5 separate regions of the Homo sapiens genome follow, and all the other regions are linked to region 5. The links come from fine-mapping of genetic effects on gene expression. A gene starts in region 5. Each other region holds a variant in brackets. All regions are shown on one strand. Distances are from middle to middle.

Region 1 (5,000 bases), 210 kb before region 5:
ATGGATGGGCTGTCAAAGGCCACAGGTGGCAAGAATCTCAAGGCCACAGTGGCCACATTGATTCTGGCCCCAAAGGGTAACCAGTGTGGGAACAGCACAGCAGCCCATGCTGGCTCCCCAAGCTGCTGCCTTCCTCCTTGCCCCACACGCCTCCCCTGACTCCCTCCAGACACCCTGGCAGCACTCCTTCACCATTGTAAAGGCATTCTTAAATAAGCAACAGGCTGGAGACTGAGTACGCAGGCCTGGGTAGAACAACAGATGGTCCTAATTTATTATAGCTATGTGTTTGGTTTTTTTAAACTGAACTTTATAGTCTTTGGATTATTTTACAAAGACCACCCTGGGGCATCAAGGTACCCTTGTTTTTTCTTCTTTAACGTCAGACACCAATTCTGCACAATACACTGCTCAGTTTCTTCATTTACACTATTTTCCCTCTCTCCTCCCCCACTTTCCTTCCTTTGATCTGCCCTAAAGATATTAGAAAACACAAAGTTATGTAGGTGTGCTTATAACGAACACAGATTGAAAACCTACATACTTACTCAGTCGTTAACTGTATATTATGATATATAAGATGGACTATCAGAGTTATTAAAAATCAAGTTGTTTGTTTTTTGAGACAGGGTCTGGCTCTGTTGCCCAGGCTGGAGTACAGTGGTACAATCTCGGCTCACTGGGGCCTCGACTTTCCAGGCTCAAGTGATCCTCCCACTTCAGCTTCCCGAGTGGCTGGGCCTATGTGTACTCGTCACCACACCCAACTAATTTTTCTTCTTATTTTTTTTTTTTTTTTGTAGAGATGGTCTCACGGTGTTACCGAGGCTGGTCTACACTCCTAGGCTCAAGTGATTCCCCCCACCTCAGGCTTCCAAATTGCTGGAATTACAGGTGTGAGCCATTGCACCTGGCCAAAAGGAATCAAGTTTTTAAAAAGAAGCTATATCAAGGAAAACTTGAAAAAAATGCAGAATATGATTCTTTAAAACTCAAGTATGATCCCTTTAAAGAAATCTTTATAACTAAAGACATACCGGCCAGGCATGGTGGCTCACACCTGTAATCCCAGCACTTTGGGAGGCCTAGGCAGGCAGATCACCTGAGGTCAGGAGTTCAAGACCAGCCTGGCCAACATGGTGAAACCCCATCTCTACTAAAAAAAAACAAAAAACAAAAACACAAACAAAAAAAAAACAGCCAGACATCATGGCGGGCACCTGTAATCCCAGCTACTCGGGAGGCTGAGGCAGCAGAATCGCTTGAACCCAGGAGGCAGAGGTTGCAGTGAGCCGAGATTGTGCCACTGCACTCCAGCCTGGGTGACAGAGTGAGACTCCATCTCAAAAAAAAAAAAAAATTACCAAAATGTTACCTGATAGTAAAATACAAAATTTTTTGTTTACTCATTTATTTCCCAAGTTTTGTATGAATATGCACTATTTTTATGATCATGCCTGCATACTCCTTACTCTTTATCCTGCCCTTTCTGTAAGGAGTCCAAGGTGGAAATGCTCATGTGATGTGAACTAATTAAATTTTTCTTAAAAACAATTTTAAAAACCATGACTTAAAAAGCACGGTCTGCTTTAGTTATAATGGCAGATTCTGAACTATACACACATGTATTATATATACATAAAATGCTAGAAGACAGACTATGGTCCTTTCATCTGCATTTGAGTACAAACAGTACCAAATGGTTACTTCATACCACTCTTTATTTATGTGGTATATGCGATATTGGCATCTACTGTGGAGAGACTGGAATAAACTATATGTCTACATCACCCATCAGCCATCTGCATTGTGAGTGAACAGCCATGAAGACCAAAGATGCCCAAATCCTGACCTGTCTCTGAGCCTTATTATCCAACAGTCTACTGCACATTTCCACTTAGATGACCAGCAGGCATCTCAAACTCAGAATGCCCAAATCTAGACTCATCATTCCTCACGAACTGGATTTTACTAGGAGATCTCCAGTCTCACCTATCAGCAGAATCCCCTCAGAAACCTGGG[T/C]ATTATTCCCAATGCCTGTCCTTCCCTGCAACCTACCAAGCCATCTTCCAGCTCCAACAGCCATGACAACATGGTCTGAGAAAGGAGTAGCATTATGCAAACAGCAGGGACTTCAGGAATCAAACCCTAATTGAAACCTGGCCCTGCCATCTACCAGACCTGTGACCTTGGACAAGATCCTTAACCTGTCTGAGCTTCTATTCTCTCACATCAAATGCCCCTAAAGACAGGATCTGTCTCATGGGACCATGGCATACTTTAAATGAAGGCCATTCACTAGAAAGTGAATGCTGAGGGTCAGGCACTATTAGGCACTATGCAGGTACTAGGGTCAATGGTGAATAACAGCCATTGTGGTACGAAATACCAAGTCCTCAGGCCTTTACAGTGTATTAACTGCTACAATGCGAACTACCCAATGCAACGGGGAACACAGGAGAGGAGATGGAACCTAGACCGGGGGTGGCAACATCAGAAACAGTTTTCCAAGGTAACTAACATTTAAACTAAGTCCTATATGATGAGCAGGAGGTAGACAAGCAAAGTTTAAGGATGTGGATAGTATACCAGTGGAGGAATAGCAAATGTGAAGTTGTGAAGTCCAGAGACAACCAGGCACCTTGAAGGTGCTGAAATCAGCGGTGTTGGCTGGAGGATAGAATGTGAGCGACGTGGCTGGAGATATAGGTGGAGTGATCAACAGGGTATATGGGGCTGGGTACCTCGAAATGAAGGGTTTCTAGGCAGGGAAATGACCAAACAAATGCTTTCAAAGTGCTTAGCACAGCTGAATGCTCTTCTTGAAACCTTTAATAACTGCCTTCATTCTCACCACCATATAGTCTGGTTTATGCTGTCCAGAAATTTACAAATCAAGTGTCTCTTTTTGCAAGCTGGCCTTTTCCAAATATTAACATGTTAGAGTATTTTTAAAAAGCAATTTTAAAATTTTTCTATGTCGTTGGTATATTAAAGGCAAGAATATAAAGGGAAAAGCCCATGAGTCTTTAGCTGGGGTTTTTGATAGTCAGATGTGCAATGAAAAGGTTAACTTCTTTTCTGAGTCATAAACCTCAGAACTCTCCACACAACTGATCTCAGTAACTTCCCAATTCCAATTGCTGTGTTAAGTAGCACTTATAAGACACTACATCAGCCTCATCATTTCACGACATGGTGTGCTCCAGTTTCCCACCCAACCCACATAAGCACCAATGTTCAATGCTCAGAGTCACCCGAAGCATTGCAGGCTGATTGCTTTGATGAAAACTTAATTCTACCACTGAGGAATATTACAGTGTCGTATTGTGAATGAAATTCACCCAGTAACCCAGACCTCATTGGAATACCTTATTAACTCTATATAGTAATCTATGAACACTGACATTAAAAAAAAATTAGTAAAATGAATTTAAAACTCTTTCATTTCTACTGGATTAAGAATCATTCACCCCAGAAAAGCAATTAACATATTTGTCTCTTGCAAATGAATATCGGAGCTTAACTGCATGGACTTCGTATCTTTGTAAGAAAGGATGTCTTTTTGCATGTAGAACACAATTATAGATAAAATTATCCCCCAAGCCCCATCTTCTAATACTATTCATTTTTAATTTGGAAAGAAACCTTGATAAGTCCAGATGCATTACGTTACCATTCTCACAAGCTCTTACGAATTTTTAGAATAATCAGAGTATCAATGGACAATATACATTTAACAATACTAATTTGTAACAGGATGCTTTGAATATCAGAATTATTACTGTGCATCACTAAACAGTTTTGTTGTATTAAAGGCAATATGTTTTAAAAAGTATAGATGTAGCTTTTGAAATGCATAAAGGGAATACTTGCAAAATGAAATTGAAGTAATTCTGTACCATACTGCTTCACTAGAAGTATTTCAACAAAATAATATGGTATTGCCATTCTTCACATTTATCATTTCTTAACACAATCTGCAACAATTCCAGCTCCTGGAGCTACTCCCATCATCCCAGGACTACAACTTGCTTCCATTCGGCCTCCACACTGATCTCTTCTCTTCCTGAGAGAGGACACCCAGAGCCAAGTTCAGATACTCTCATGTAATCTGGCTGGAAACAAAGCTCTCCAACCCCAGTTGTACTGGGTGGGCCCCTGGGGCTCAGTGTTTGCCTTCAGAAGTAGATAGAGGCGAGCTGTAGCCCAGATCCTTTTTCATGGAAAGGGAACCTGGGGGTGGTGGGTTCCAGGGGCTCACACCGCTGGTTGATATAAAAGTAGTTGCCCTATGTGTAACTTTTCTATCTATCTCCTAGTATTATTTTACTTATTTTCATTATTCTTTATTATCATGTATTCTGTCAAGCACACTGCAACAATGTAGGGTATGTTCTGATACGAAAGCATTTCTCCAGCCACCAGCCACTCTCACCAGCAAAGGTGCTGAGACAGAGACATAGGTGAACACACTGTATTATAGAATTCTAAGTCGTAAGTCAGAGGGGTGAGGAGTGTTGCCAGACTTCATGGGGTACTTGGCACTCACCAGGAGTTGAGAAAGGCCTTCCAGAGAAGGTGACATGTTGAGTCTAGAAGATGAGTTGGTGTCACCAGATGGAGAAACGTCATCACAGGAAGAAGGGGCAGTATGAGCTTTGTTTTGAGAGGGCAGGAGGGAGGAGGAGGAAGAATACTGACTACAAGAAGATTTTGTATTGCACAAGACCTGTGATTCTCCTTTTACCTGTTGGATATTCAGACCAACCTAGGTTGGAGGCAACAGCTTAGAGGTGGCAGTCAAAGCCATGGGAATGGAAACCACCACCATAAGAGAGTCCATGGAGATGACCCAGCCATGGAAGTCCAAGGGGTCCAAAGCTCCACAACCAAGTGGGAGGTGGAAGAGCCTAGGGCTTAGGTTTAGGGCTTCTTCAGTTCCCTTCCCATTGCCCTCATGGTATATGCTGGTCAGCAAATGACCAAACTGCTTAACA
Region 2 (5,000 bases), 390 kb before region 5:
ACAGCAGAGTAACATTTAAATAAATTAAAAGTAATGCAAAACACTATCTTAGGACATGCACAAAATGGGGGGAAGGGGATGGGATATTATATGGGATAAATTATTTGCAAGGAATAAATTAAAAGAGGGACCAGTGAATGTGACTAGTGAATATAATTATCTTCTCTCTCTGTCCTGAGTGCCAAATTACAACAAAAGCCAGGCATGGTGGTGCGCACCTGTAGTCCCAGCTACTCAGGCAGCTTGCTATGCAGGAGGATCGCTTAGCTTAGAATTCAAGGGTCGAGCGCACTGTGATTACACCTGTCAATAGCCACTGCATTCCAGCCTGGGCAACATAGCCAGATCCCATATCTATCTTATCTATCTATCTGTTGATCTCTCTCTCTCTCTCTCTCTCAATCAATCCAAAAGAAAGTAAATGATGCAAGCCAGGAGCATAAGGGATTAGGCAGAGTGGGAAAGTGAGATGTTGGGGGGATTTGGCCCTAGAGCTGTCAAACACAAAGAGTGTGCACAGAAGCAGGTTTCCAAAGTGGTAGGAAATTCCTTGGAAACGTGAGGCTAGGCAAGTATGAGACAGGTCAGCTATGCGGATGCTTCAATCTCTGAGTACAATTGTGGGAGCACAGACAAGAGTCAGCTGATGAAGTCATCTGTGAATGTGGCTCACAGATGAGTGACAAGCAGGAAGGCAAGGTGGCACCAGAGTCCTGAGCAGGATCAGAAACATTTTTATTAGCCATAAAAGAAAGAGCCTGTTCTGCTGATGATACGTAGCAGTACTCACTGGGTAGTTGTAATTTCAGGCAATTAGGCTGTAATTCATAATTTCACTGTGTAATGGAGCTGGTTGAGATGAGATGATTCCCACACTATAGAATGGTGAGAATCACTAGGCTGGGAAAGTTCTACTTAATGAGCTTCATGCAGTTAGTCCCTGTGTAGTTTTTGGAAAGCTGCTATCTCGAAGTCCAGGGTTTGTAGATATTTTGCCGAGAACCACACCTCTTATTGGAGATTTTATATGATTTTTCTTAGAGCCCTCAAATAATCAGAATCTATTTACAGCAAATATTTATTTCTTTCTATAAATCAAATTTACATGGTGTTTCAGGATAGTGGTATTTTATTGTTAATGGCAATTTTGACTAGATGGAAACAGAAGAGAGAGATCACAAAATAGAAGGAGAAAACATCCAACAGCATTTCCATCTCTCGGTAAGTTTGATATGTGTGCTATTTTCTCTTTTGTTTTATAGCCCACTAAAGTACCTGGATGTGTTATAAAAATGGTTGCATTGGAAAAGGCCAGCATTTTGGCAATCTTCCTTTTTTTTTTTTTTTTGAGACAGAATCTCACACGTTGCCTAGGCTGGTGTGCAGTGGCGCGATCACGGCTTGCTGCAACCTCTGCCTCCCGGGTTCAAGCGATTTTCCTGCCTCAGCCTCCCAAGCAGCTAGAATTACAGGCGCCCACCACCACGCCTGGCTAATTTTTTGTATTTTTAGTAGAGACGGGGTTTCACTATGTTGGCCAGGCTGGTCTCGAACTCCTGACCTTGTGACCCACCCGCCTCAGCCTCCCAAAGTGCTGGGATTACAGGCATGAGCCACCGCTCCCGGCCAATGTTCCTAATTTCTTACCAGCTTTTTGACAAATTGAGTCAGCTTCTTTCATGACAGCCAAGAGCTAGCCTTGAAGCAGCCTGGCCTCCTCATAGGCACATGAGGCTGGGGTGAGTAAGCAAATACTGGTGCCCACAGCAGGAGTTGCCTCACAATCTCCGTGGCTCAAGTGTGTGTAAGGCCCTCATGAAGTAACTGGGAGCTGTGTCCATGGAAGAGGTCAAAGAACCAGGGTTCTGGGGATTCTCTGCCTTGGATTCCCCCTAAAACTCCCTCAGTCTACAGAGAGGAGGGGAACACAACACTGGACTCAGGTCAAGGTAAAAGCATGCATACCACCAGCTTCCTATTTTCTGCAACAAGCTCAGTGTGCCTTCATGTAGCATTAGAATGCCAGGAGAGTGGGTCTGTGAAACCCTAAGGAATCTGGCCCCCATGTTGCTGTAACAGAGGACATTTTACCCACTGTTGGTCTGCATGGGAGTGGGGCTAGGATGAGGACAAGGGTGGACAGAAGGCTACAGGAAAGTGGTCTAAACAAGAGAACAATGACAACTGCCTCCCCTAATAAGGCCACCAGATCCCAAATTTTGGTACCAAGAGTTAACATCAACGTAGACTTGGGCAAGATTGTTAAAGCTTTTGTAGGCCTCTGTTTTCCCATCTCTAAAAAGGGTATAATAATAGTACCTATCAGCTAGGATTCTGGAGCAGATTAAACAAAATGTGCATAAATCATCACCCATCACAAATAAGTGTTTGAAATATGTTCTGGGCTATTATCATAATTTAGGT[T/G]TTCAAAATTATTTATTTTTAGAGACAGGGCCTTGCTATTATTACCCAGGTTGGAGTACAATGGTGTGATCACAGCTCACTGCAGACTTGATCACCTGGGCTCAAGCCATTTTCCCACCTCAGCCCCCGAGTAGCTGGGACTATGGGTGCACACCATCACACTTGGCTAATTAAAAAAAAAAAAATTTTTTTTTTGGTAGAACAGAGGTCTTGCTATGTTACCCAGGCTGGTGATTTAGGCTTTGAGTAAGTCCCGCTTTGCCTTTAGAGGTATCTGATTTTAATCTGGGGGGTGTCTAGTCTGAGAGGAGTTCAGTCTGCAAATATTCACAGAATGTCAATACTATCAATATTATTAACAGAGCCTTTCTTAAAAATAAGCCCTACTGAGCTTGCACTGGTAAGTGGCTCCCTGTGGAAGTGATTTCCTTCATGGGGTGAGCTGGGGGACTTGGCACTGGGCCAGGCAGTGCCTCCATGCCTTGGGAGCCCCGGGGTGCCTGTACCCTGGTGGACTCCACCCTCCCTCCACTTCTAGCTCAGATGACCCTGGTGAAGGGACAGTGCAGGGCAGGCTCCACATAGCAGGCAGCTTCCCTAGCAGATGCCGGGCTTATCACTGCTACATGGTGGGCCCAGGAGGAGCAGGCTGGGCATGAGGAGAAGGCAGAAAGCCTGTAGCTCTTTCTCTCAGTTCACCTGCAGAGGGGAAGTAGAGGACACTTGGAGAAGCTCTTGGCCCATGTCCAGTGGGTGACCAAAGGACACTGCCTCTCCCTTCCTTGTCTCCAAGTGCTGACCACAATCATAATGTGGGGGAGTGTGCCAGGGTGCTACACCCCATTTACTGACTCTGGCTCATGGAAAGGCCTGGGCACACATCCTCTCAAAGAGCTTCCCAGTGATTCTGACACACACGTGTGGGGTCACCACAAGATGGATGAGTGAAACTGCCTGTTTCTCTGCAACTCTGATTCACGGCCAAGCCCGGCTGGTATCATAGTCAAAGCATGTAAATCAGCTGCATCAGAAACTTGTACTGTTGAATATCCACATGTTCCTAAGCCCCTTTATGGTTAGGTAAAGCCATCTGCCTAGTTCTGGTCAACAGGCAGGGCGCAGAAGCATTTAAATGCTGTGGTGGGAGCCTTTGAGTGGGCTCTTAGGTGGTGGATGGCCAACAGTCTGAGTTTCTGAGTGAATGTATGGATCAGAGACGTGCACCTGTCCCCTAACCTGCACTGAATATATGGTGCAGGCAAGAAACAACGTGCCATGCCACTGAGATTTGGGGAGTGAACCTGTTATTGCAGAAAAATCTAGCCTCATACTGACTAATATACCAGCCATACAAAAGAAGAGCCACCTGAGCCTCCCATGTGGAAGGAGCACACTGAAGCCAGACCTGGCTCCTCTCAGCTCCCTCCCATGCAGCTAGATGACAGCTGGGGAGAGCTGAGAGGAGCGGTGTTGAGACAGGACTTGGTTTTACAGAACTTTTATGAATTTAAACTCAGCTAATATTGGCATCCTCTTCCTTATCCTGAAAAGAAATTCCCATGAAGAAATGGAACAAATAAGAAATGAACAAAGTTCCATAAAGGACAAAAAAGAAGACTCAGCTTATATGTGAATATCAAACCATTAAAAGCTGTGAGATACAGATCATTCTCCATAATCCATACTTTTTTGTTTTTGCTTAATTTGAAAATTAAAGAGGACAAAGAAGAAAAAAAGCAATCGCATACTTCCACTGCCCAGATTTAACCTGTTAATATTTTAGCATATCAGTGTTCTATTTCTATGTATATACTTCTGCATATTAAAAATTATACAATGATATGAATACATTCATTAAAAACATAAATTAGAACATTATAGAGAAGTTTAAGGTCCCTTTGAGGCCAATACAACATATTACCATTATGATGTTGGTTTATATTTTTCTGGTCTATTTTCAATATTTTTATATACATACATATGAATATCTATGAAATGGAAATTTATACAGCTATAAATTCATAATAAATATAAAGTACTATTTTGCAGTCTGCATTTTCTCTATATAGCCCTGTCTCAAGAAAAGCAACACCAAGGGGAGGTAGAGTGGGACCAGCTCAGACGGGACTATGGCCAAATGAGGCTAAAAGAGATGTGAGGGAAAACATAGATGTCTCTTTATTTAACCTCTGTAAGATCACAACACTTACACTTCCAGGCTGGTCTCAAACTCCTGGGCTCAAGCAATCCTCCTGCCTCGGCCTCCCAGAGTGCTAGAAGTATAAACGTGAGCCACCGCACCTGGCCGAGGGTGACTTTTATTTGGTTCAAAATAGCATGTCTACTTGTCTCTTGAATTTACTGTGGCAATGAAACCAGAAGCCAGACCCCCAGGATGAGAGAGGCCCAGGAGAGACAGATGGAACTCATTCCAAGACATGCAGAAAATACCCAGGTAGAGCACAGTGTGTAAAGAAGAAATTGTTAACACCTTATGACATGAACATGCAGAAGAATTCTGTAAATCTGAAGAATTTCTAGAAAATCTCAGAAGGAACTTATGTGGCCGATTTGTG
Region 3 (5,000 bases), 480 kb before region 5:
CTCCCAAAGTGCTGGGAGTATAGGTGTGAGCTACTGCGCTCAGCCTGCATTAGTACAACATTTTAATAGATTCTTTTGCAGAAGAATTCGAGACTGGATCTTTACTTAATTTGCTCATTCATTATCTTGTGCCCTTTAATTTTATACTTTAGAGGGTAGCTTACTTTCTCAGATCATCTTTCAGCTAGGATGTGGTCTGTAACTGACTTGTGCAGGGTCAAAAAATTAGCAGGGCATGGTGGCGTGTGTCTGTAGTCTCAGCAACTTGGGAGGCTGAGGTGAGAGGATGGCTCGAGCCTGAGAGGTTGAGGCCACGGTGAGCTGTGATCCTGCCACTGCACTCCAGCCTGGATGACAGAGGGAAACCCAGTCTCAAAAAGCAGGAAAATGTACATTCGTTTCATCTAAATTTAGATTTATAGTCTGCATATTTTTTAAGAGTACACTATAATCACTTATAGGGAGGAGATGGCCTGGATAATTTTTTTAAGTCTAGGATGAAAAAAAATAGTAGTGTATTAATTCATTCAAGAAATATTTATTGAATACCAGGCACTCATCTGGGTGATGAGGATAAAGCAGTGCAGATTAAAATCTCTGCTCTCATAGAACTTACATTCCAGTGGGGAAGATAGACAGTAAATAAGAAAATATGTAGTCTATAAATTTAACTATTAAGGTGTTAAAAGAACTATAAGTGAACATTTTCTGATTTGATTATTTTTTAAATCTTGGTGTAGTCGAACCAAATTCCGCCACAGTCAGCAGTTATTTCCTGACGGTTCTCCTGGTGACCAGTGGGTAAAGCACAGGCAACCACTGCAGCAAAAGCCATATAATAATCATTCTGAAATGTCTGACCTTTTAAAAGGAAAGGTGAGTGATACACAATTACAGTCTTTTCAGAAATTTAGATCATTTGGCTTTGAAATTTTTCTCAATTGGAGAATTACATCTTAATAGTTACAGAGAGCTCTGAGTTACTGATCAAAGCCTGTATGTTCCTTACTTATGATTTGAAGCAGGGCTGAGGCTTCTTAATGTTTACAGTTCCGGTGTAAATCCAGTTAATAATAAGAATTAGCATCTGACTTTTGTGTATATGCTGCCAATGAAAGGTTCATTTAAAAATAAGTCATAAGGAAAATATTTTCCAAATTAACACAAGTGGGATCTATTGGCTTTTGTTCAGGAAGAAAAAGTAACAGCGTATTGTAAACTTCGATTTTCATTGTTGTATTCGAGTGTATAATTACACTGCTATTAATACTTGTTTTCCTTTTTTCCACATGTTCTAAGCACCACAGTTTATTTATTCATAACACTGTTAATGCACATTTTGGTTGTTTCCAGTTTGGGGCTTTAACAAACAGTGCTGCTGTGAACATTCCTATACCTGTCTTTTGATGAATATACACAGTTCTGTGTAACTAAAAGGAAAGAAAAGTAGAATTATTGGATCACTGGATATGCCTGTGTTATTGAGTATCTATTTGCTAATTTACTCAAGTTATTTATATCCTCAGCAAAATACATGAGAGTTCTAATCGTTGCACATCTTTACTAATACTTGATGTTATTTTTTTAATTTCAGGTTTCAATGTTACTTTTTTTTTTTTTTTATTTTAAAAATATACTGGGCTTGGCCAGGCGTGGTGGCTCATGGCTGTAATCCCAGCACTTTGGGAGGCGAGGCGGGTGAATCACCTAAGGTCATAAGTTCGAGATCAGCCCCGACATGGTGAAACCCCGTCTTTACTAAAAATACAAAAAATTAGCTGGGCGTGGTGGCGGGCTCCTGTAATCCCAGCTACTCTAGATAGAGCCCGAGGCAGGAGAATTGCTTGAACTCGGGAAGCAGAGGCTGCAGTGAGCCAAGATCGCGCCATTGCACTCCAGCCTGGGCAATAAGAACAAAACTCTGTCTCAAAAAAAAAAGTGTGCGTGTGGGTGTGTGTGTGTGTGTGTAAACTGGGCTTGTCAAAATTAAACTTTTGTGCTTCAGAAGACATTTTCAAAATAGTGAAAAAGTAGCCCACAAAATAGAAGATATTTGCAAATTATATATATAAGGGGTTAATATCCAGAATATGTAAAGAATTCTTAGAACTCAACAACAACACAACAATCTAATTTAAAACTGGACAAATGACTTGAATAGACAGTTCTCCAAAGAAGATATGCAAATGGCTCAACATTATTAATCATTAGGGAACATTGTTAATAATTAGTGGTATCTCCACAGTGAGATATCACTTCTTACCCATTAGGATGGCTATAATAAAAAACAAAAAAACAGAAAACAAGTATTGGTGAGGATGTGGAGAAACTGGAGACCTTGTGCATTGCTGATGGGAGTGTAAAATGGTGCAACCGCTGTGGAAAAGAGTTTGGCAATTTCTCAAACAGTTAAACAGAGTTACCATGTGACTCAGCAATTCCATTCCTAGGTAATATCCAAAAGAATTGAAAGCAGGAACTTAAACAGATAACTTGTGTACCAATGTTCATAGCAGCATTATTCACAATAGCCAAAAGGTGGAAACAACTCATATGCCTGTCAACAGATGAATGGATAAACAATGTGGTGTATACACATAATGGAATATCATTCAGCTTTAAAGGAATGAAATTAAGAAATGAAATTCTGCCCAGGCATGGGGGCTCATACCTGTAATCCCATCTCTTTGGTAGGCTGAGGCAGGCGGATTATTTGAGCCCAGTAGTTCGAGACCCACCTGGGCAGCATGTCTCTACTACTAAAAATATAAAAAATGAGCCAGGCATGGTGGTGCACACCTGTAGTTCCAGCTGCTCAGGAGGCTGAGGTGGGAAAATCACCTGAGCCTGGGAAGTCAAGGCTGTGGTGGCGCCATTGCACTCCAGCCTGGGCAACAGGAGTGGGACCCTATCTCCAAAAAAAAAAAAAAAAAAAAAATTTCGAAGCATGCTACAATATGGGTAAACCTCGAGGACATTA[T/C]GCTAAGTGCAATAAGCCAGACACAAGAGGATAAATATCGTATTAATGTTATTCCATTCCTAAATAGGCAAATTCATAGAGACACAAAGTAGAGATTACCAAGGCTAGAGGGAGGGGAGAATAGGGAGTTACTGTTTATTGGTTGCAGAGTTTTTGTTTGGGATGATAAAAGTTGGGGAAGTGGGTAGTGCTGACTATACTAAATGCCACTGAATTATACATTCACAAGTGGTTGATGTGGTAAATTGTATGTATTTTGTACCACAATTAAAAAACTGCTGGGAAGAGTGGAATGAAACTAAATTAAAACTGCGTAGTAACATGAGTCATTCAAAGCCATACTTCCTTCACATCACTTACTTAGGTTATTGTTTTCCAGCTATTTTAGCAACTGGTTATTTTTCCCTATAGGTTGGAATGTAAATTAACATTCTTATTTTATATATATATATTTTAGAAGTTCCTCCTATTTATTCTATTTTAGCCAGTCCTCAAATAGCTATCTTTTCAATATCTCAAACAACAAATTAATGTTTAAAATGTTCGTTTTAATTTAAACTTAAGAATTTTTTGGTAGGAAAATTATCTTAAAGCAATTTAATAGCAAGATTCAAACTATTGCATGTCTAAGTTTAGGAATAATGGCCCACATTTTAAAACATAAATCTTAGCCGGGAACGTTGGCTCACACCTGTAATTCTAGCTCTTCGGGAGGCCAAGGTGGGTGGATCACTTGAGGTCAGGAGTTTGAAACCAGCTTGGCCAACAGGGTGAAAACCTTCACCGTCCCTATTAAAAATACAAAAATTAGCCGGGCATGGTGGCATATGCTTGTAATCCTAGCTGCTTGGGAGGCTGAGGCAGGAGAATCGCTTGAACTTGGGAGGTGGAGGTTGCAGAGAGCCAAGCACTGTGCTCCGGCCTGGGCAACAAAGTGAGACTCCATTTAAAAAAAAAATAATAGTAATCTTTGTTATTTTGTAAAAATATAGTAAAAACTTTGTAAAAATTAATACTGCTTATTAATAATTTAAAGCAGATTTCTAGGGTAACAATTGATTACTACATCTACCCATTTTCTGCTTTAAGAACTGTAGCTAATGTCCCTCGGCATTCCTTTACAGAGAGGTTCCATTTATGCATTAGAAACGAGATCTATAAGCAGACATGGGATAAGGCAAGAGGTGTGGAAAGATTTCTTTCTTTCTTTCTTTCTTTCTTTTTTTTTTTTTTGAAAAAGAGATAGTCTCCCTCTGTTGCCCAGGCTGTAGTGCAGTCGTGCCATCTTGGCTGACTGCAACCTCCACCTCCTGGGTTCGGGTGACTCTTCTGCCTCTGCCTCCTGAGTAGCTGGGACTATAGGCGTGTGCCACCATGCCCGGATAAGTTTTTGTATTTTTAGTAGAGACGGGGTTTTGCTGTGTTAGCCAGGATGGTCTCATCTCAACCTCGTGATCCGCCCGCCTCAGCCTCCCAAAATGCTGGGATTACAGGCATGAGCCACTGCGCCCGGCCGAGGTGTGGAAAGATTTCTAGGGGCAAGTGTATTTGCTATTTCATACCTTTAGAGAACTCTTGCTTTGGGAAGCACTGACTTCTATAAGAAAATACATTGATAGGGTGATTAATGAAAATTTGGGTAGGAGAAGCTTTGCTAAAAACTTGGTTCAACCAGCTAAACATATTCATGGGGTATTTTTTTTGTGCTATTACATTATGCTATAGATTCATATTATATTTCTTTTTGGGAAAACAGAATCAAAGTATGAGGGGAAATGGCAGAAAACAGTATCAAGATTCACCTAATCAAAAGAAAAGAACAAATGGGCTTCAGCCAGCAAAGCAGCAGAATTCTTTGATGGTAAGAGTTATAGCTGTCACACTAAGTAGGCAGTTCATCCTCTGAAGAGTGAAACAAGGGCATTGCCAAAGCACAGGAATGTTACTTGTTTTGTTCTTATTTTAATTGATATACTAGTAGGATTTTTGTGTAGCTGACTTGTGCACTATTCACACTAAA
Region 4 (5,000 bases), 460 kb before region 5:
TAATCAGTATAGTTTAGTTCAGTAGCTCCCACAATTAGCATAATCAAGTGCCACCTAGTTCACCTTCAAGGATTGTGTCTTGGGGAGTATTTGAAAAATACAAGAAAAGGAAAAACTTTTATAGCTTTTTTATTATACATATTTATAAAAAATTAACACTTTTGCCTGCAAAATAGTTTTTACCCAAATCACATTTGAAAGTACTAAAACTAAGGTCAGGTAGCATGAGTAAAACTGGGGCCCTTAACAGGAGCTGGAGCCGCCTCTGCCTGGGGGAATTCTCAGAGAAGGGGAGGTTCTCTGATTTTACCTGGAGCAAGAATGGAGACAGAAGTCAGTAGGCAGGATTTTATTCCTGCTTCAGCCACATGTTTCTGTGTCAGTGAAAATGAAAACTGCCCATTTGATGCCTGCTTAATCACAAAAAAGAGCCATGCACATCCCACTTTGCTCAGGGGAGGACGTTTCCCTAGGCAAGCTGGAAAAATAGTGAAAACTGATTTTTTTTTTTTTGGGGCATATGTTTTTCAGCCAAAACATTTTCCTCATGATAAAATGCAACTTTATATGAAAAGTGAAAAATTCTAAAAAATCACAGGAATGGCCAGGCACATTGGCTCATGCCTGTAATCCCAGCACTTTGGGAGGCCGAGGTGGGTGGATCAGTGGTCAGGAGTTCGAGACCAGCCTGGCCAACATGGTGAAACCCTGTCTCTACTAAAAATACAAAAAAACTAGCTGGGTATGGTGGCGGGCACCTGTAATTCCAGCTACTCAGGAGGCAGAGGTTGCAGTGAGCCAAGATCACGCCACTGCACTTCAGCCTGGTGACGAGCAAAACTCCATCTCAAAAAAAAAAAAAAAAAATCACAGGAACTAACTTTGACCAAATGATTGACAGAAACCAGTGAACATTTTCATAGTGATCAAAGCACCCCAAAGCTGGTCCTTCTAGACTGATACCAGTTGATCTGTTGTTTCGTTTTGGAGATGGGCAGCCTCACTGCTGGCCTCTCAGTGGTTGCTTTTAGGATACAGCTGTCTGCCCTCCGAACTGGTGGCTGGAGTATCCTCCAGCGAACAGAAGGCTGTGGAATTTGTATCATGCTCTGAAAATAGACCTACCCGTAGCTTATGGACATAAAGACTCTATGCAGAAACCTCCTCAACTTTAATTTGTAGTCAGCTATGGCAATGGAACACATTTTTCATAGGGAACTTTGGATGGATTCTCTGGTGCTACAGAAAAAAACAGTAAATGGTCCTTCAAGTGTATCAGTGTAGAACTGAGAGAGAAGAGGTAAAACTGAAAAAGAATAATGAATTTGTTTTAAGATTGAAGACCTTCCTGAAATAATTCAGTTACTTTGGTACTGCCTAGCCCTGTAAGCATTTTGCTTGAAATTTAACCTTTTAAGCACCATATGCTAACCATCACCATGTATCTGGGGGCAAAAAAGAAGCCTTAACTACCATTCCCTCACTCTGTCCCCGTCATGACAACAGGAGCTAAGTCTTGAACTGGGGGTTACACAGCACTCTTAAGTAGGCGTGATAAGTTTTGCAAAATGTTCAGTATCTCCTCAGTGTCTTGTCCTTAGGTAGAGACAGGTCCAGAGCTACAAATGCACCCATGTGGAAGAGATTTGATTCAGCAGAACAGCAATTATGTAGTGCCCTGGGGCGGGAAGTGCTAATAATGTTTCTCAGCTCTTGAAGAAACCCCTGACAGAATTTTAGTTCCACTACAGGTATCAAAAAGATTCCCAGCTCTAAGTCTTGGATATTAATAAGGCTCCACTGAGAGGGAGAAATCCCAGAATCAAGAGAGCGCTCCCTTCCCAGCCCTGCCTCCAAAATGAAGATTGAAGGAAGTTTTTATTCTCTCAATACAAAATTGTTCAGGCACAGTCCTGGTGGTGGTCTGTTTGTAACTTTAGTGTATCTGGGACTGTAAGTAACACCTGTCTACGCTCTTCCCATGACCTATAACTCCCAGAGATCACCTCTTATGGCCGCCTCTATCTTAAAGTTGAGACCCGGGACTTGGAAACCAAAGCCTTGCTGTAGTAAACAAATCAGCAGTCCTTTTAAATGCTGGAGGCACACACAGGTCTGTTTTCCCATGAAGCAGGAGGAAAGAGGAGAAACGAGATTCTAGAAGATGAGCCCAGCATCTACCAAAAAGAGGATACAATGGAAAATCTTACAGAAACAAATGTCTGGGATCCCACTGATGCACAGCCGCCAGACCAGAAGAGGAGGGGGAGAGTGAGTGCTGAAAGCAGAAACGAGGCTCTGCTGAGCAGGCACAGAACATGTGTTTACACGCTGTTGTGGGCCCAGGAGGGAAGAGCGGGCACCTCTGGATACAGTCCACAATGTCACCATGGCCAGTC[G/A]CCCCAAGGGTTGAGTTGGGGCACTCCATTGTCCAAGTGCCGACCTACCTGCCAGCCTTCCCTTTCCTCCTCCTCCCAACAAGTACATGGGCCCTTCTGTCCCCAGTGGCCTGCTGCAGTTTACTTCCCATGGGCAGAACTCCGGTGCGTGAGTGCTGATTAAAGCGAAGTTTCATTGGTGTGTGGCCTGGAGTTCTCCTCCTCTAGCAGAGCTATTCTTTGCTTGAGCATCCTCACTTGGGTCTCATGTCTCTCCACCATGGCCATCATCTGCGACTCTAACTTCTTCAGTTTGTTTTGATGCTTTTTCTTTGCTTTCTCATAGGCAGCCACCAGGTTGCTAGGTGGGAATGAAGGGAAATTGGTATTAAGATTCATCCTAAGTAGCATCGTGACACCATCCTGTCCACTGGATAACCAGATCTAGTGAGCACTGCTCTGAAGAAAGATCACTCATCCTCTTCGGTAAGAATCTGAAATCTAGTGGTCAGAGGAGGGACAGCACCAGGATGTCAACACTCAACGGCCAGTCACCTACTGGCTTAACCCTGATGAATCCAGCCGGATTGCTAGAGGCTGGTCACTCTCACATATTAGAAGGGGTTCTAAGAGTCAAACCAGCAATCCAAATTGGCCCAGTCCAAAACGGATAAATACAAATAGTGGGTCTATTTGTTGCTCCATGGTTGCTTGCAACATAGTCAAGTGTATCTTACAGGAGAGTACTCCTAAGGCACTGCAATCAAAGTGACCATACCTGGGACGAGAGCAGAGAGGTTGTTCTTGTTCCACCTTCCCTTTATGCTTTGGGCTGGTGGGACTCGGAATATTAAATTAGGCCATAAGCCAATGCTGCAAAGCCAAACATGGAATATACAGGCCTTTGAACTGTTCCCACCAGAGCCTGGTGGTAGGGTATACAGTGAGCCCAGGTAGGTCCATTCCATGTACAGTCATTACCCTTACAGCTGCAGTTCTCCCAGATAGTCTGAGGACTCACCCCAGAGATTTGTAAAACCCATTCAGGAGGTCTGTGAGGTCTTGAGCTTTTATTTCCAACTATAGAGCTGGATGATGCCAGGTGTTCTCAATATACATCCACATAATGTTGACTACAGAAGCAAATGTGAGAACCTAGCTGTCTTCTATTAAGCCAGACATTAAAGATTTGCAGAATTGTAAGACCAGTGCCACTTTTCTAATTATTTCTTGGAAAATAGTTTTTCATAAAAATGCCATTTTTTTTTTTGTAAATGAAATAATAAAAACTTTAAATAATTTATCTTGGTTTTAGTTCTAACATGAGAAGTATCAATAAATACAACTTACAGGAACAAAAGCTCTCTGAGGTCCTCCGTTTTTTATAGAGAAGAGTCCTGAGCCCAGTCTTAGAGCAGTATTTCCTGAAGTATTCCAGTGGATATTGTGTTGCTCAAATAAATTCCATGGCTAATTTTGTTTGGAAAATACTGGCTTAAACAGATTTTTTATTATATGACTTCTCAGAACATTTAAGATACATAATACCAGGAGGCATATACCACAGTATGCTACATTTGGCCAAAGGATGTTGTTACTGAGCATTTCTTAGTTTCCACAGACCATCTTGGGAGATGCCACTCTAAGGAAGACCAGGCTCTTAGAGAGCCAGGTAGGGACTCACCCACTTTCTAGAGTTAGTTCTTAAGAGTTAGGGAAATGTCCATCCCTGGTGCTGTGTCTACATGCAGGGTGTCAGTCCAAGTACCACAGGTGGAGGGCGGTGGGGGCTGGGTATAGGGAGATTTTTACCTGTTGGCCCGCTTTAGATCATTCACGAACTCTGCAGATTGCTGATGTCGGATTTCACTGCTCTTGGTGAGTCTCTCCAAGGCACTCACCAGCTCTTGAACTCTGGCCTTCAACTTCTTTTCTCTATATTAAAGGAGACAAAATATGCCAGGAGTAGTTTGAGATGATGCTGGAGGTGCCCACTCCCTGGGAAGTGGTGACAGAAAGAGGAAGGTTTAGCTTGCAAAGCCTAAAGGCAAGGGAGAGAAAAGATACTAAAGGGCCCAACAGCGCTACTGTCACCTGAATGAATTCATTCTCAAATGCAGATTTAAACCCATTTCTTCAATGACAAGGGCTTTTTAAAGATCTTATGTGTCAAAGAAAACAAGACAGGAATTTCTGTTTCTAGTCTTCTAGCTAATCTAGAAGTTCCTTTCTACTATTGGCATACCAGATCCTCAGCAATGAGTGCGGCCTGACCACAAACCCCCGTCTGTCTCCATCCCCTTCTTTTTCAGGTGTCCTAAGTATCTCCTGAACCACTCAGGTTTAGCAACCTACCTTGAACAGGTCCCCACTCATTGAGACCAACATGATCCCACCTTGCCAAAAACCAAAAAATTGGTAGAGGGAGTAGATATGATACTCTCTTCATTGTAAGGGTCCTTATTTCCCATGAAATTACATTTGCACTTTTGACTACGTGCCCTCCACAGGCAAAGCAGCTTCAAGTTCTGTGGATCCTCTACTACTTTGGTAACCCAAGCTAATTAGAGTCAGTTCAGGGAGGTTTCCAGTATCCAGTCAGCTCATTGCCTTCCTCTAATT
Region 5 (5,770 bases):
ACAGGAATGCACAACCCTCCAAACCACATCACCCACTACAGAGTGGTAAGTACAGGTCATTAAATGAAAGCAGCACAGAAAAGTGGCTTCAGAGAGGGAATCATTTAATGCCCCTTACCTTCATTAGCCCCATTCCCCAAGTCTTACCACATAAACGTAAATTCCAGGTAAAACTGTGCTTACCAGGTAAACACACTTCCAGACAAGTTCCTTGTTGCCCTAGATTGCCATCCCTAAACTTCTCCTACATGGCAATTCTGCCACAGCATAATTTTCAGGGCAGCTCCACCCACAGTTAAAGTTATGATTTAGGGTTCATTACTACACATACCTTGAAACTTTTAAGCAGACACATTAAAGTAATGCAGCTCAAGGAATGTTAACAACTTTTTCCACTTTTGCCCCAGCCAGTTTCTACTCTAATCCAAAACGGCTTCTTTATCACCACCCACTTTACTCAAATTACGCTTACAGAATTCATTATCCTCCCGGGTAGAATCACCGAAAATAATGTGAGCATTTATATAGAAAGTGTAGTTCAGATAAAGCAATATATTAATAGGCCAAATTAGAAAAGGATAGCACGCTGCTAGTTTTCTGTATGCACTCTTGCCCGTGTGAAATTAAACTTTTTTGCATCCATGCGGGGAGCGGTGGCTCAGGCCTGTAATCTCAGCGCTTCCTAAGGCCGAGGCGGGCGGATCACTTAGGGTCAGGAATTCGAGACCAGCCTGGCCAAATTGTGAAGCCCCTTCTCTACTAAAAATACGAAAATTAGCCGGGAGTGGTAGTGGGCACCTGTAATCCCAGCTACTCGGGAAGCTGAGGCAGGAGAATCTCTTGAACCAGGAGGCGGAGGTTGCAGTGAGCCAAGACCACGCCACTGTACTCCAGCCTGGGTGATAGAGCGAGATTCTGTCTAAAAAAAAAAAAAATTGTATCCAAAGTTGGAGTTTGCCTTTATTATTGCAAATGAGATAATAACCTTTCAAGTAGGAAAACAACAAAAAGGAAAACTATATAATGAAATTTCTTTTACTCCCAGAACCAAAATAACGAGACTTCCAGATAGAAATTTGCATGGAGTCAATCAGAATTACATATTATTTTCATTTCCGAACAGAATTACTCCATCAAGTTTTCTGATATCTTCCTAATGTTTCTCAGTAAAACTTTAGCAAAGTAATAAAAATTCACCTAAGAATGATCAAAATTGCGTTGAGTCCCAAATAAATAATTTTTTTTATTTTAAGGGAAAAATTCCGCACTTTGCTTTCTTTTTTTTTTTTTTAGGTAGGCAGGGACAATCAGGAAGCAGCCCCGGATTTTCAGAAACGATCTTTAGCATCACCAAGACATAGACTAAAGAAACATGTAATGCACAACTTAGGCTGCTCCTTCATCCAAGGCAATTCAAATTTCCACGGATACCAAGTCTTCAATGGCCGGTGTCAACCATTCAATAGAAGCATACCAGAAAATGTTGCGATTGCCTTCTTCACCACAAGAGTCTAAGTGACACAAATTTGGGCAGAAGTAATTATTTGGCCAAGCCGGGAGGCAGGAAGCTTAAATACCGCCTCTGTAGGAAGTGCGGGGGATCCGAAGCAAACACCCCAAAGTTTGTTTGTGAGTGGAGGCGCGGAGGCGCCCGGAGCCACGCCGAAGCTCACCTGGTCAGCGCACAGAGCCGGGTAGGAGTCGGGTCTAGCCCTAGTTTGCTCCTGAGCGCTTCGTTCCTCTCAGGCTACTGCGTTTAAATCAATACTGGGTGGCAAACGATACCCATTCTTTGGGCTCTGAAGTTTGGAATTCATGGGTTCTGCGGCACAAGAAAGTTTCTTCACAGGTTATTTCCCTGTCCGAGGCTGTCGCTTAGCTCATCTCCTCCCGGTGCGGCCCTGGGGTGTCCACCAAGCCGCCGGGCAGATCGCTGCCCCGTGCTGCGGCATCTTGATGCCCAGGACCCCGAGGCTGTGGGGCAGCCCCTCCTACCTGGGACAAGCGGCCAGAACTCCTTTTCCCACAGGGAAGAACACTCCAAGCCCCCGGAAGAGTGCGCATCCTAAGGAGATGTCTCCCAACGCCTAGACAAAGACAGCGCTGGGAAAAGTTGGACCAACTGGCACCCCCGCAAGGCGAACAGAGCAGTCCCCTCGGCCTTCGTGGCCGAGCCGGCTACGCGCTCTCGGAGTCGCGGCCAACTTTTCCCGCGAGCTTCTGAGCAACTTGCCGCAAGTTGGGGCGAGGGGGCAGAGCAGGGGTCAAGGGCGCGCGGAGGGACTGATCTCGCTCCTGTCGGTTTCCTCGTACCTCCCCGCGTACCTGCTGATGTATCCGTCCCCGTCGCCGTCGCACGTCTGGAAGAGGCGCCGCATCCTCTCCTCCTCGCCGGTGCTGGACGTGTCGCTGCTGCTGCTGCTGCTGCCGCTGCCGCCGCCGCCGCCGCCGCTGCTGGAGCTCCCCGCAGCCGCTGCCGCCGCGGCCGCCATCATGCGCCCGCTCCCTACTTGGGAGGAGGAGTACGCGCGACCGCAGCTGGAATCCGCGCGGCGCGCAAGCTGCCTGCAGCCCCGAACTTGCCTGACAACGGAGCATGCCCAGTGGCCGCCGGGGCGCTCCGGGCGAGGGATTCCACCTCTCCGGGTTTTGCCCGGACTGGGAAGATGGGCGCTCTGGAATCGCCCGAGGAGGCACCTCAGGGAAGAGGGAGGAGGGGAAGGTGGCTGGAAGAGTCAGGGAGCTAAGGGTGGCAACGGGAACACAAGAGGAGGCAGAATACACTGGAAGCCCCCGGGAAGGGTGTCAGCATTGTGCATCCGGCAACGACGCGGGCCCGGGACACTTGGGGACGCTTCAGGCAGAGGGCAGGTGTACTCCCGGCAGACCTTCTCCGACCGCCCGGAGTCATGGCTTCCTTTTCCAGAGAAGCTATATAAACACTCTCCTTCTGCAAACTCAAAACGGTGCTTGTAATCCCACTCTCCAGGATTGTTCCGGGTTCTGTACCCATAGCCACCAATGAGAACCGGAATGACTGGCCTTTTTATGAAATTTTGACACCTGTCAAGAAACCTGGCCCTCGCAGCCCTCATCTTGGCTCCCACTCTGTACTGGGAAGAGTCTGCACGCTGTGTGGCATTGTGTACGTTGGGTCAATTTCTGGAAACGGCTCACTCTACTGGCCAGGCATCACTAGAATTTCCCCCAACAGCTTTAATAATGCCAAGAGCGAACATAATAGATGGTCTCATTTGATCCACACTACAGACCTGGAAGATGCCTCTTTTATTATCAATCCTACGACTTAGGAAGTATTAATAGATAAGTACCTCATAGAGTTATCTTACATATAAAAGGAGAGCAGACATAATGCAGTTAGGACAATGTCTGACACCTAGTAAGTGCTCAACAACTGTTAGCTCTCATTGTTCCCAATTTACAGGTAAGAAAACTGAGGTACCAAGACCTGCTCAAGGTTCCAGGTTTAGTAAGTGTTAGGGCAGAGGCAAGCCCGGGCAGCCTAACTCCAGAGCAGGAGCCTTTAAACACTGCACTATTCCCCCATAGCCAAAGGGAAACCACAGTGAAGCAATTTGTGGTTTCGTGAATGACTCATTATTCTGTCCTGGATTTTCTGCCAGAGAGGCGTGTGAAGTTCTCTGGTGGTTTTAAAATATGTCCACAGATTCTTTGGTGCACCCCTCATCAAGAGGTGGAGTCTGTTGCTTCCCCTAAACCTGGATTGGACTTGTGACTGCCTTGACTTCTGAGACTAGGTTAGAAAAGGCAATGCAGATTGCACTTGGCTCTCTCCCTTGGGACACTTACCTTTGAAGCCTTGAGCTGCCTGAAAAGAAGTTTGGCTACCCTGAAGCTGGAGAAACCATGCAGAAAGACCATGTAAAGAAAAAAGGAGATGACCAAAGAGCTACAGCTGTTCTAGCCCTGGATCTTAGAATCTTCCCAGACTAGGTGCCAGACATGAGTGAGAGATGATGCTAGCTCTAGATGCTGCAACTGCATTGGAGACCCTGAGCAAAACTGGCTAACCAACCCCCAGAGCTGTGAAGATAATAATTAAAAATTGTTGTTTTAAGCCATTAAGTTTTGAGGTGATTTGTTATGCAGCAATATATAACTGGAACAAGTCCATATGTCTTGGGAATGTCTGCTAGGTCAGAAGGAAGGAATCTCTGCTCTCTTTCTCCTCCTCTCCACCCCATCTACCTATTCCTACTTTACTTCTTTATTATTCTCTAAGTTCCCAGTATTTCAGGGCACTAAAATCATAGATTCATGAGTTAATGAGTTAATGGGTTATCATGGGAGTGGGACTAGTGACTTTATAAGAAGAGAAGGAGAGACCTGAGTTAGCAGGCTCAGCCCCCTTGCCATGTGATGCCCTGCACTGTTTTGGGACTCTGCACAGAGTCCCCACCAGCAGGGTGGCCCATTGACCTTGGACTTTTCATTCTCCAGAACTGTAAGAAATAAATTCATTTCTTTATAAATCACCCTAGTTTCAGGTAGTCTGTTCTAAGCAACAGAAAATTGACAAGACCAGAAATTAGTACCGGGAGTGGGGTGTTAACGAAAACGAATACCTGAAAATGGAGAAGCAGCTTTGAAACTGGATAATGAGCAGAGGCTACAAGAATGAAGCAGCAGTCTAGAAAAAGCCTAGGTTCTAGTGAGGGCTGAGAAGACAGGAAGAACAGGGAAAGTTTGGAACTCCTTAGAAATTGGTTAAATGGTCATAATCAGAATGCTGATGGAACTATGGACAGTAAAGGCCATTCTGACAAGGTCTCAGATGGAACTGAGGAACAAGGTACAAGAAAATGGAGTAAAGACCATCCTTGTTATAAATTGGCAAAGAACTTAGCTGAACTGTTCTATGCCTGAGGGCTTTCTGGAAGGCTGAACTTGAGAGAGAGAAACTGGGGTATCTGGCCAAAGAAATATCTAAGCAGTAAAGCATTCAGGCTGCAGCATGGCTACTTTTAACCACTTACATCAAGCTGTGAGAGGGGGAAAAAAACTTTAAAGGTGGAATTTACAATCATAAGAGAAGCAAAGTGGAAAGATTTGGAAAACTCTCAGCCTGGCCATGTGAAGAGTGAAAAGGTGTGTTTGGGAGAGGAAACCAAGGGTGTAGCCCAGCAACCTTTTGTTCCAGAGATTAGTAAAGGAAGAAAGTATCATTACGAGAAGGAAAGACCTCGATGGCATTTCAGAGAACTTTGAGTTGTTCCTCTCATCACAGACCCAGAGGCAGGAGGACAGAATGGTTTCAGGAGACAGACATGAGGCACCTTTCATGGGCTTGCTGCCAAGGTCTCTCTCAGGTCTTTACTTCCCAAATTCTGGTACAGTGCTTTTTGGACATGCCAGCTGTGGCTCAAGAAGCTTTAGGTGTGAATTGACCTGTCACTCAAGAAGATGAGAACCATAGGCCTTAATGGCATCCATATGATGCCATTATAATTCTTCAGGTTTGCAGAAAGCGAGAGCTGTGGAGATGTGGGGTCTCCACCTAGATGTCAAAGGATTTTTGCTGAAAGCCTGGGTCCAGGCAAAGGCTTGTAACAAGGGCAGAGCACTTCAGAGAGCTCCAACTAAGGCAATGTTAAGCAGAATTGTAGGGTCAGAGCTGCTGCAGAGAGTTTCCAACAGAGCAATGCCTAGTGGAGCTGTGGGAACAGGGCCACTACCAGAACCCCAGAACTGTGGAGTCACCAACAGCATGCAACATCTACTTGAGAAA

Which allele goes with the higher level. Positions count from the first base shown, and alleles are read on the strand shown. Sizes are in standard deviations (SD) of each study's normalised expression. Not every link is listed here.
With allele C in place of T in region 1, the expression in tibial nerve of the gene that starts at base 2,534 in region 5 is lower (small effect, 0.35 SD a copy in GTEx).
As copies of A replace G in region 4, the expression in aorta of the gene that starts at base 2,534 in region 5 goes down (small effect, 0.35 SD a copy in GTEx).

The links. PIP is the estimated chance that this variant, and not a neighbour inherited with it, causes the effect.
Region 1: its variant is the best candidate, but not a certain one, in a credible set for the expression of MCC in tibial nerve (GTEx, PIP 0.67).
Region 2: its variant is the best candidate, but not a certain one, in a credible set for the expression of MCC in skeletal muscle (GTEx, PIP 0.71).
Region 3: its variant is the best candidate, but not a certain one, in a credible set for the expression of MCC in whole blood (TOPMed, PIP 0.75).
Region 4: its variant is the best candidate, but not a certain one, in a credible set for the expression of MCC in aorta (GTEx, PIP 0.50).

What each region holds. Positions count from the first base shown.
Region 1 is chr5:113,276,023-113,281,022 of GRCh38, forward strand. All of the region lies in intron 3 of MCC (MCC regulator of Wnt signaling pathway), which reads right to left. Among named protein-coding and RNA genes, the nearest start is that of TSSK1B, 160 kb to the right of the region's middle. The variant T/C (reference allele first, on the strand shown) is at 2,023.
Region 2 is chr5:113,093,092-113,098,091 of GRCh38, forward strand. The region is part of intron 8 of MCC (MCC regulator of Wnt signaling pathway); the gene reads right to left. Among named protein-coding and RNA genes, the nearest start is that of DCP2, 120 kb to the left of the region's middle. The variant T/G (reference allele first, on the strand shown) is at 2,425.
Region 3 is chr5:113,003,202-113,008,201 of GRCh38, forward strand. DCP2 (decapping mRNA 2) reads left to right here. Exons shown (of 11, transcript NM_152624.6): 8 at 741-876; 9 at 4,737-4,841. Among named protein-coding and RNA genes, the nearest start is that of DCP2, 29 kb to the left of the region's middle. The variant T/C (reference allele first, on the strand shown) is at 2,981.
Region 4 is chr5:113,024,744-113,029,743 of GRCh38, forward strand. It overlaps MCC (MCC regulator of Wnt signaling pathway), which reads right to left. Exons shown (of 19, transcript NM_001085377.2): 18 at 4,191-4,313; 19 at 1-2,739. The coding sequence ends at 2,559. Among named protein-coding and RNA genes, the nearest start is that of DCP2, 50 kb to the left of the region's middle. The variant G/A (reference allele first, on the strand shown) is at 2,400.
Region 5 is chr5:113,485,920-113,491,689 of GRCh38, forward strand. MCC (MCC regulator of Wnt signaling pathway) reads right to left here and starts at 2,534. Exons shown (of 19, transcript NM_001085377.2): 1 at 2,326-2,534. The coding sequence starts at 2,495. RefSeq lists an enhancer at 2,433-2,727.